2 linked regions of the Homo sapiens genome follow. The protein of the gene in region 2 purifies or fractionates together with the protein of the main gene of each other region. This does not show direct contact. Each region holds a gene or a part of one and is shown on either strand. Other genes may lie near its edges.

The links.
Region 1: the proteins of CNOT11 (region 2) and MAP4K4 purify together in Homo sapiens (affinity purification with mass spectrometry; one large-scale study listed by BioGRID and IntAct). This does not show direct contact.

The regions. Positions count from the first base shown.
Region 1 is NC_000002.12:101,696,252-101,700,506, forward strand, and holds the start of MAP4K4 (mitogen-activated protein kinase kinase kinase kinase 4), read left to right. Parts: upstream 1-1,455; 5' UTR 1,456-1,829; coding exon 1,830-1,886; intron 1,887-2,013; exon of another isoform or gene 2,014-2,191; coding exon of another isoform or gene 2,192-2,221; coding exon 2,222-2,287; intron 2,288-4,255.
Region 2 is NC_000002.12:101,255,886-101,259,385, forward strand, and holds part of CNOT11 (CCR4-NOT transcription complex subunit 11), read left to right. Parts: intron 1-1,905; coding exon 1,906-2,070; intron 2,071-2,929; exon of another isoform or gene 2,930-3,500. UniProt on the Homo sapiens protein: Component of the CCR4-NOT complex which is one of the major cellular mRNA deadenylases and is linked to various cellular processes including bulk mRNA degradation, miRNA-mediated repression, translational repression during translational initiation and general transcription regulation.

The sequences.
Region 1 (4,255 bases), 440 kb from region 2:
GCTAACCTGGTGAAAATCCCTGCTCCACTTCCAGGCTGTGCTTTTAAGGAATTTGGACATACTCCTTATCTTTCAGTACTTTGCTTTCCTTACCTAAAAGGAGGATAACATTCCTTCAAGGCTGTAAATAGAGTGCTGTGTGTAAAGCACTCGGCACAACGCGTTTGTGTGGGGGAGACACAGTATGTGCATAAGAATTGGTAGATGATGATGGTGATGTTTATGAAAATCCAATCATGAATAGCCGGAGGCCACTGTTGTCAACGAGTGATCCCTGTAACAGCGACGTTAGCTACACTGAGAACTTACACATGCACATTCTCAGGCCCATTGCAGACCTCCTGAAACGAGAACTCGGGAGGCAGGGCCAGGCAATTGGCACTTTGCCTGAAGCACTCACGTTTTGAGAACACCTGTCAGGTAACAGGGAACCACTGAAAGTTTTTGGACGGTGGAGGAATGCGATATAAATGACTGTTGATTCACTGGCATTAAAGTGCCTAACTACCGACTGGCTTCCGAGGTTGCCGGAAGAAACCTGTTGGTTGATCCTTAGTGATCTCCAGGTTACAAAATGCGGGTTGGTACTAAGGGCCCCAAACACAGTGCTCACCTACCGAGCGCAGCCAGGAGCGCAGCGCCAGACAATTACAGGAGCTGTTTTGGATATGGCCGGGCAGCCCAGCGATGCTCAGCGAATCCCACAACTACAACCACAACCGTACCACACATTTAGCCTGCAAAAGCAGAGAAAGGAAAAGAAAACCGTGCAGGGAAGCCGGAAACGAGGGACTTAAGGGTCTCCTCTCTAGGGTGTGGGAGAGTGGGGGATGGGGCGAATGGGGCGAGGAGGGGGCGAGGATCGAGGGAGGCCCCTCCTCCGCTCGGCAACACCGGGTTCGGGTCCCTCTAGAGCCGGGACGCGGCCGGCGGGACACACCCTTGCCCTGGGAGACGCGAGGGTCCATGGCCTCTTAGTGTCGGTCCAGCTCAGTTTCGTGTCATTTGTTGTTAGCGCGAGGTAGGGGCGTTTCCCCACCCCAGCTCCTCCCCGGGGAAATCCCAGCCCGCTTCCTCCCCGCTCCTGCAGTTTTCGGGAGCGCCGTGCGGGGTCGAGCGCGGAGGCCGCACCCTGGGCGCCGGGCGTCGTGTCGGGACCGCTGCCCGCGCTGCCCGCCGGCGCGGCCATTGTTCGAGCCCCACCCCTGATGAATATTCACGCCGCGCGGGCGCCTCGGCCCGCGCCCTACCCGGCAGGGCTCGGGGTGTGAGTGCGTTTCCGCCGGTTTTTCCTGCCTGAGGAGGAAAGGGGGAGCTGTTTTCTCTCTCCTCAGAATATATTTTTGGTGTCCCGTTTCTCCTCCTCCAGCGCCGCCGCCGCCCCCTCCCTCCCCACCTCGCTCCCCGCCTCCGCCTCCGCCTCCCGGGTTATCTTTGTCTCGCTGCCTCGCGCTCACTCGCTCAACTCGGCGCCGCCGCGGCCCCACGCTCCGGGCCCGTCCTCGAGGCGCGCGGCGCGGGGCGCGGGCGCCGGGGCCTGAGGCGGCGGGCGACGCCCGGGGGCCTGACGGCCGGCCCCGCGCCATGGTGTGAGCGCCGCCGCCCGTGCACGCTCCGTCCGCCCTCCGCGCGGCCCGGCCGGCAGAGAGCCCCGAGCGGCCCGAGAGCGCAGCCGAGCCCGCCGCCGCCGCCCGCGGCCCCGCGAGGAGAGTACCGGGCCGGCTCGGCTGCCGCGCGAGGAGCGCGGTCGGCGGCCTGGTCTGCGGCTGAGATACACAGAGCGACAGAGACATTTATTGTTATTTGTTTTTTGGTGGCAAAAAGGGAAAATGGCGAACGACTCCCCTGCAAAAAGTCTGGTGGACATCGACCTCTCCTCCCTGCGGGTGAGTGGGCCCGCGAGCGGGCGCGCGGGGAGCGGGCAGCCGGCAGCCGGCAGCCGGGGCCGCGCCCAGGTCGGCCGGGCGCTCGGGCGCCGCCGTGGGCAGAGCCGCGGGGCGCGGCGGCCCCTTTGTCTTCCTGTGCGGGCTGGTGCGGGGCGGGCGCTACCCTCTACCGCCCCCACGCCCCGAGCCCGCCGCGCGACCCCCGGGCGCTGGGGGACCGCGCGGGGCGAAGCCCACCTCTTTTGTCACCGCCTTTTCTCTCCAACTGCCTTGCTTGATTTATTCATTTTTTTGGCTTCTTTTAAATGATAACCCCTCCCCTCCTTCCTCTCCAGGATCCTGCTGGGATTTTTGAGCTGGTGGAAGTGGTTGGAAATGGCACCTATGGACAAGTCTATAAGGTCGGTGTGGGCGCCTTCTTTGTTTCCCGTGGCATGTGGAAACTTCTTATTGGGGGACGAGGAGAGGGTGATAAACATGCTGCTGACTGGAGGCCACGCCGCTTGGCCAAAGTTGGGAGAGGGGTTTCTTTCGCCTTGCAGTCCCTCTGTTTTTGCACACCGAGTTTATATTCAGACTGGCCTTAAAAGACCTCATTTCCTGGCTTTGAGATAAGGAAATAAGCTACACTCTTAGGCATGCACTTTACTTCGATAAAATGGAAAAGCATTTTTTAAAAATAAGACAACCTGAATTTTTTCTTTTTTTCCCCAAATCCGGCCTTCTGAGTTTGTGTGTAAATTGAAATACAGTGGAGGCGGGCCTTGCCTCTGACGATCCTAAACCACTGCTTTGGCCATCGTGAAAATTGTCATCATGTTTCAGCCTCCACTCAGTGCTTGCCAGTTGCTCAAGGTGGGGAGTTTGGCGTTACCTGGGAATACTTTATAACTGTGGTTGTCATCCTTTCTATTGATGGATACGTATTTTGGGGAAGCAGGGAGGAGTGTGTGTTTGGGCAACAGCAGCAGGAAGAATTACAGTGTGGGGATTATAAAATCTGAATTCCAGGAATAACCTGTTTGACAGCTGTGTAATTGAAACAGAAATGACAGAGAGCGAAGAGAATATAGAGGATGCCCTGGTTTACACCCACCCAGGTCTTTCTCTTTTTTCAAAATTTTAACACCCACCCTCCACCCCAGCGATAAATGAAACTAGCAAATCTGGAGACTGAGTCTGCGCTGAGTAGCTGACACCTGATGTGACTAACAGTGTTCATTTTATACATTGTACAGTCTAGAGATTATGAAAGATGTGTAGGGAATGGAGGCGCAGGCCTTGAAAATTCAGAACGGAATGTTAAATTTTTCCTGTCTTAATTTGTTTCTCAATACTGAACGTTTTCTAAAAGTTTAATCTGCACTGGGGGAGTGTTCTGTTAGAGTCGGTACAAGGTTAGGGAAGCAGGGCTCTGTGGTTCACCATGAAGAATTGTCATTGTCTCATTAAAAATGGGTGGAGTTGGGGGGGTTGGAAGCCGACTGTAGACCTTTTCTTAGGCTAGATTAAGTGTGGATCTTATTGTCTCTTTTCTGCGTTGTGAGTAGAGTTTATCTATCACTTGAACGCCTCTCCTTAGCCTAGACTTCTAGCCTGGGTAGTGTACTGTACTGGACTGTGGTCCGAACTTGGGTCAGTATTCTTAGGTGATCTCAAGTGTATTAGCTTGTGTTTTGTTGGTTAACTGTTCGGGCCGGGGCCAGATTTTTGAATTTGAAAGAGAGCCCCGTTAACTCAGCTTGCCCGGCTCAACTGAATTTGGAAGGCTTTGGAAAATTTTGGAAAAGATTGTGTTGCAACTCACTGAGTGGTTGGTAACTGGCTAAAAGACATTCTCCCCGGTCTGTTGTTTGTTTAAGCACCAGTCATTTTTTTTCTAACCCAGTTTTTTCTCGCCAAATTAAATGGTGATTGTAGTCTTCCAAGTGAATTAGCCAGAGCTTGTTTTTGACCTGGCTACACAGTAGTTGGATTGTTTGTGTCTTACTTGGTCAGCATGGATGTTAAGGGCAGAGAAGTAAGCTAGAAGGCGATATAGTCTTTAAACCTTAAGAGAAAGGAAAGAATGAAACCCCAGTTTGTCTTTATTGGTTTTAAGAGGTGGGAGCTGTTTATGGTAAGAGTTTAGTCAGGTTCATTGTTATTTCCCCTCATTGCCATTTTGGTTCCATTCCCCGCAACCTTCCCGAGCTTTTGAACTAGGTTTGCTGAGCGCTAGCTACGTTTGGTAGGTATTTGGGATACTGGCATGACACAGCTCTCTGACTACAAAGTCGGTACAGTTGAGAATTTCTCTAATTATGCAAACCTAGGGAATTAAATCTGTGCAAAAGTTGCCTACAGTCCAGAACAAAATAGTGCCTGAG
Region 2 (3,500 bases):
CCAGCACTTTGGGAGGCCAAGGCAGGCAGATCACTTGAGGCCAGGAGTTGGAAGCCAGCCTGGCCAACATGACGAAACCCCATCTCTACCAAAAAATACAAAAATTAGCCCGGCATGATGGTGCACTCCTGTAATCCCAGCTACTCAGGAGTCTGAGGCAGGAGAATTGCTTGAACCTGGGAGGCGGAGGCTGTAGTGAGCTGAGATCGCGCCACTGCACTCCAGCCTGAGCAACAGAGTGAGACTGCCTCAAAAAAAAAAAAAATAGTGTAGAAGTTGAGGGATTTTGTGCAACCGGGGTGTAGGGTACATGGATGGGAGAGAAGGTCAAGAAGTGAGATTAGGAAGGTGTGGTGGGACCAGATTTTGAAGGGTCTTGTAATGGTGTAGAAATCTGGGTTTAATTCTGTGTACACAGGTTAAGTAATGTGATCAGATTTGTACTCTAGAGATATAACTAAATGGTAAGAGGAAGTATGGACTATGGGTGGTGGGTGAGCAGGGGTCAAAACTGGGAGCTGGGGAAGTCAGTAGAGGGGGCAGGAGTAGTCCCAGCAAGAGAGGCGTGGGGACTACATCTGAGGGAATGCAGCCTGGTGACATTTCTGCAGTGGGAGAGATGAGGCTTCATGAGCAATTAAACATGGGACAAAAGGGAAGGAACATTCAGCCTTGTGGGAATTTGTAGCTGCATTGTGTGTTGAATCAGGTAGTGTATTTGGATAGCTGCTGGTTGCTCTTCTATTTATTCAACTTCTACACAGTGGAAACAGAGAAGAAAGAAAAGCATTTCCGAGCACTATAGTGTTGTCTGTTTTTGTTTGCATATATAAGCTTTAGCCTTTGCAGGAATTGAGGCACTTTAGAAAATGCAGTTATTGGGCCAGGCGTGGTGGCTCACGCCTGTAATCCCAGCACTTTGGGAGGCCGAGGTGGGTGGATCTCGAGGTCAGGAGATCAAGACCATCCTGGCTAACACGGTGAAACCCTGTCTTTACTAAAAAGTACAAAAAATTACCTGGGCGTGGTGGCGGGCGCCTGTAGTCCCAGCTACTCGGGAGCCAGAGGCAGGAGAATGGCGTGAACCCAGGAGGCAGAGCTTGCAGTGAGCCGAGATTGCACCACTGCACTCCAGCCTGGGCGACAGAGCGAGATTCCATCTCAAAAAAAAAAAGAAAAGAAAATGAAGTTACTAATGTGAGAGTTAAAGAGGAAAGAAACACCAGGCGGGGCACGGTGACTCATGCCTGTAATCCCAGCACTTTGGGAGGCTGAGGCGAGTGGATCACCTGAGGTCAGGAGTTCAAGACCAGCCTGGCCAACATGGTGAAACCCCGACTCGACTAAAAATACAAACATTAGCTGGGCATGGTGGCAGGTGCCTGTAATCCCAGCTACTTGGGAGGCTGAGGCAGGAGAATCTCTTGAACCCGGGAGGTGGAGGTTGCAGTGAGCCAAGATCATGCCATCACACTGCAGCCTGGGAGACAAGAGTGAGACTTCATCTCAAAAAAAAAAAAAAAGCCACAAAACGCAGCTTGGCAGTCAAAGACAGATTTTCTTTAGTTAGAACCTGAGAAGCACTCCTGGCCGATGTTTTAACTAAAGAAAACCTGTCTTTGACTGCCAGGCTGCGTTTTGTGTTTCTTTCCTCTTTCTTTAACTCTTACAGTTAACAAGTACAAAAACCTTAAGTTTCATTTGTAGGGCCACAGATCATAGAATTTCAAATGACATATTACATAGTTTGTAAATGTATATATTTGGTTGACTGAAACTTAATCATAATTTAGTTCTTAAAACTATGTGGCTTGAAGTGGCAAGTAGCAAGTACTGATTTTACCAGATTCAAGTTGATTTTTAAAAGTAACCATTGGAGAAATCGTTATACATTTTTGTTTGCAGGATTTTTACCTCCTATAACTCCACCAGAAAAGTTTTTTCTTTCCCAGCTGATGCTGGCACCCCCACGGGAACTCTTCAAAAAGACGCCTCGCCAGATTGCACTGATGGACGTTGGAAACATGGGCCAGTCTGTGGACATTAGTGGGCTTCAGTTAGCCTTGGCCGGTAAGGAGGAATCAGTGTTTTGGGCATTTCTGTGTGGTAATATTAGGCCTCTCTTGTTGAGGACTCTACTAAAATGATGTTTTTTGTAACTGCTAAAAGGTTAGTATCATCCATTTTAAAAAGTAGTTTTAGTACTGGATCTTAAATGGAAGTCTTGGCTGGGCACGGTGGCTCACACCTGTAATCCCAGCACTTTGGGAGGCTGAGGTGGGCAGATCATTTGAGGTCAGGAGTTTGAGACTAGCCTGGCCAGCATGGTGAAACCCTGTCTCTACTAAATATACAAAAAATTAGCCAGACATGGTGGTGCAGCACGCCTGTAATCCCAGCTACTCAGGAGGCTGAGACAGGAGAATAGCTTGAACCCGGGAGGTGGAGGTTGCAGTGAGCTGAGAACAAACCACTGCACTCCAGCCTGGGCTACAGTGAGACTCCATCTCAATAAATAAATAAATAAATAAATAAATAAATAAATAAATAAATGGAACTCTTTAAATTTTTGGATGCTAATAGCATGTAAATTCATTTGGAGTTTTCACTTGAATTGATTGCTTTTTCTGTTTTAGAAGAAAGCTGGATAAAATTTAGTGGGTTTTTTTTTAAGTTTTGATTGGAAGACTTACTATTTGTTAAAATGTCAATACTACCCAAAACAATCAACAGATTTGGTGCAATTCCTGTCAAAATTCCAACAGTGTTTTTTGCAGAAATAGAAAAATCCGGCCAGTCACAGTGGCTCACACCTGTAATTGGGAGGCTGAGGCACAAGAATCACTTGAACCTGGGAGCTGGAGGTTGCAGTGAGCTGAGATTGTGCAACTGCACTTCAGCCTGGGTGACAGGGCGAGAGTCTGTCTCAAAAAAAAAAAAAAAAAGAAAAATCCATCTTTAAACCAAAGAAAGGCTGGCATAGTAGCTCATGCCTGTAATCTTTGGGAGAGGCCAAAGTGGGAGGATCGTTTGAGGGCAGGAGTTCAAGACTAGCCTGGGCAACATAAGGAAACTTTGTCTCTGCAAATAATTAAAAACTTAGCCGGGCGTGGTGGTGCATGCCTGTGGTCTCAATTACTTGGGAGGCTTAAGTGGGAGAATCACTTGAGCCTGGGAGATCGAGGCTGCAGTGAGCTGTGATTGCGCCACTGCACTCCAGCCTGCACAATATCGTGAGACCTGTCTCGGGATGCTGAATAGCCAAAACCCAACGTTCTCTTGGCATCCTTGTTGAAAATCATTTGCCCATATATGCAAGGGTTTATTTCTGGGCTTTCTATTCCATTCTATTTGTCTATATGTCTGTCTTTCTGCCAGTACCACACTGTTTTGATTACTGTAGCTTTGTACTAAGTTTTGAAATCGGGAGGTATGAGACTTTCAACTTTGTTCTCGTTCAGGATTGTTCTGGCACATTCTGTGTTAAACCTGTAAGCAAA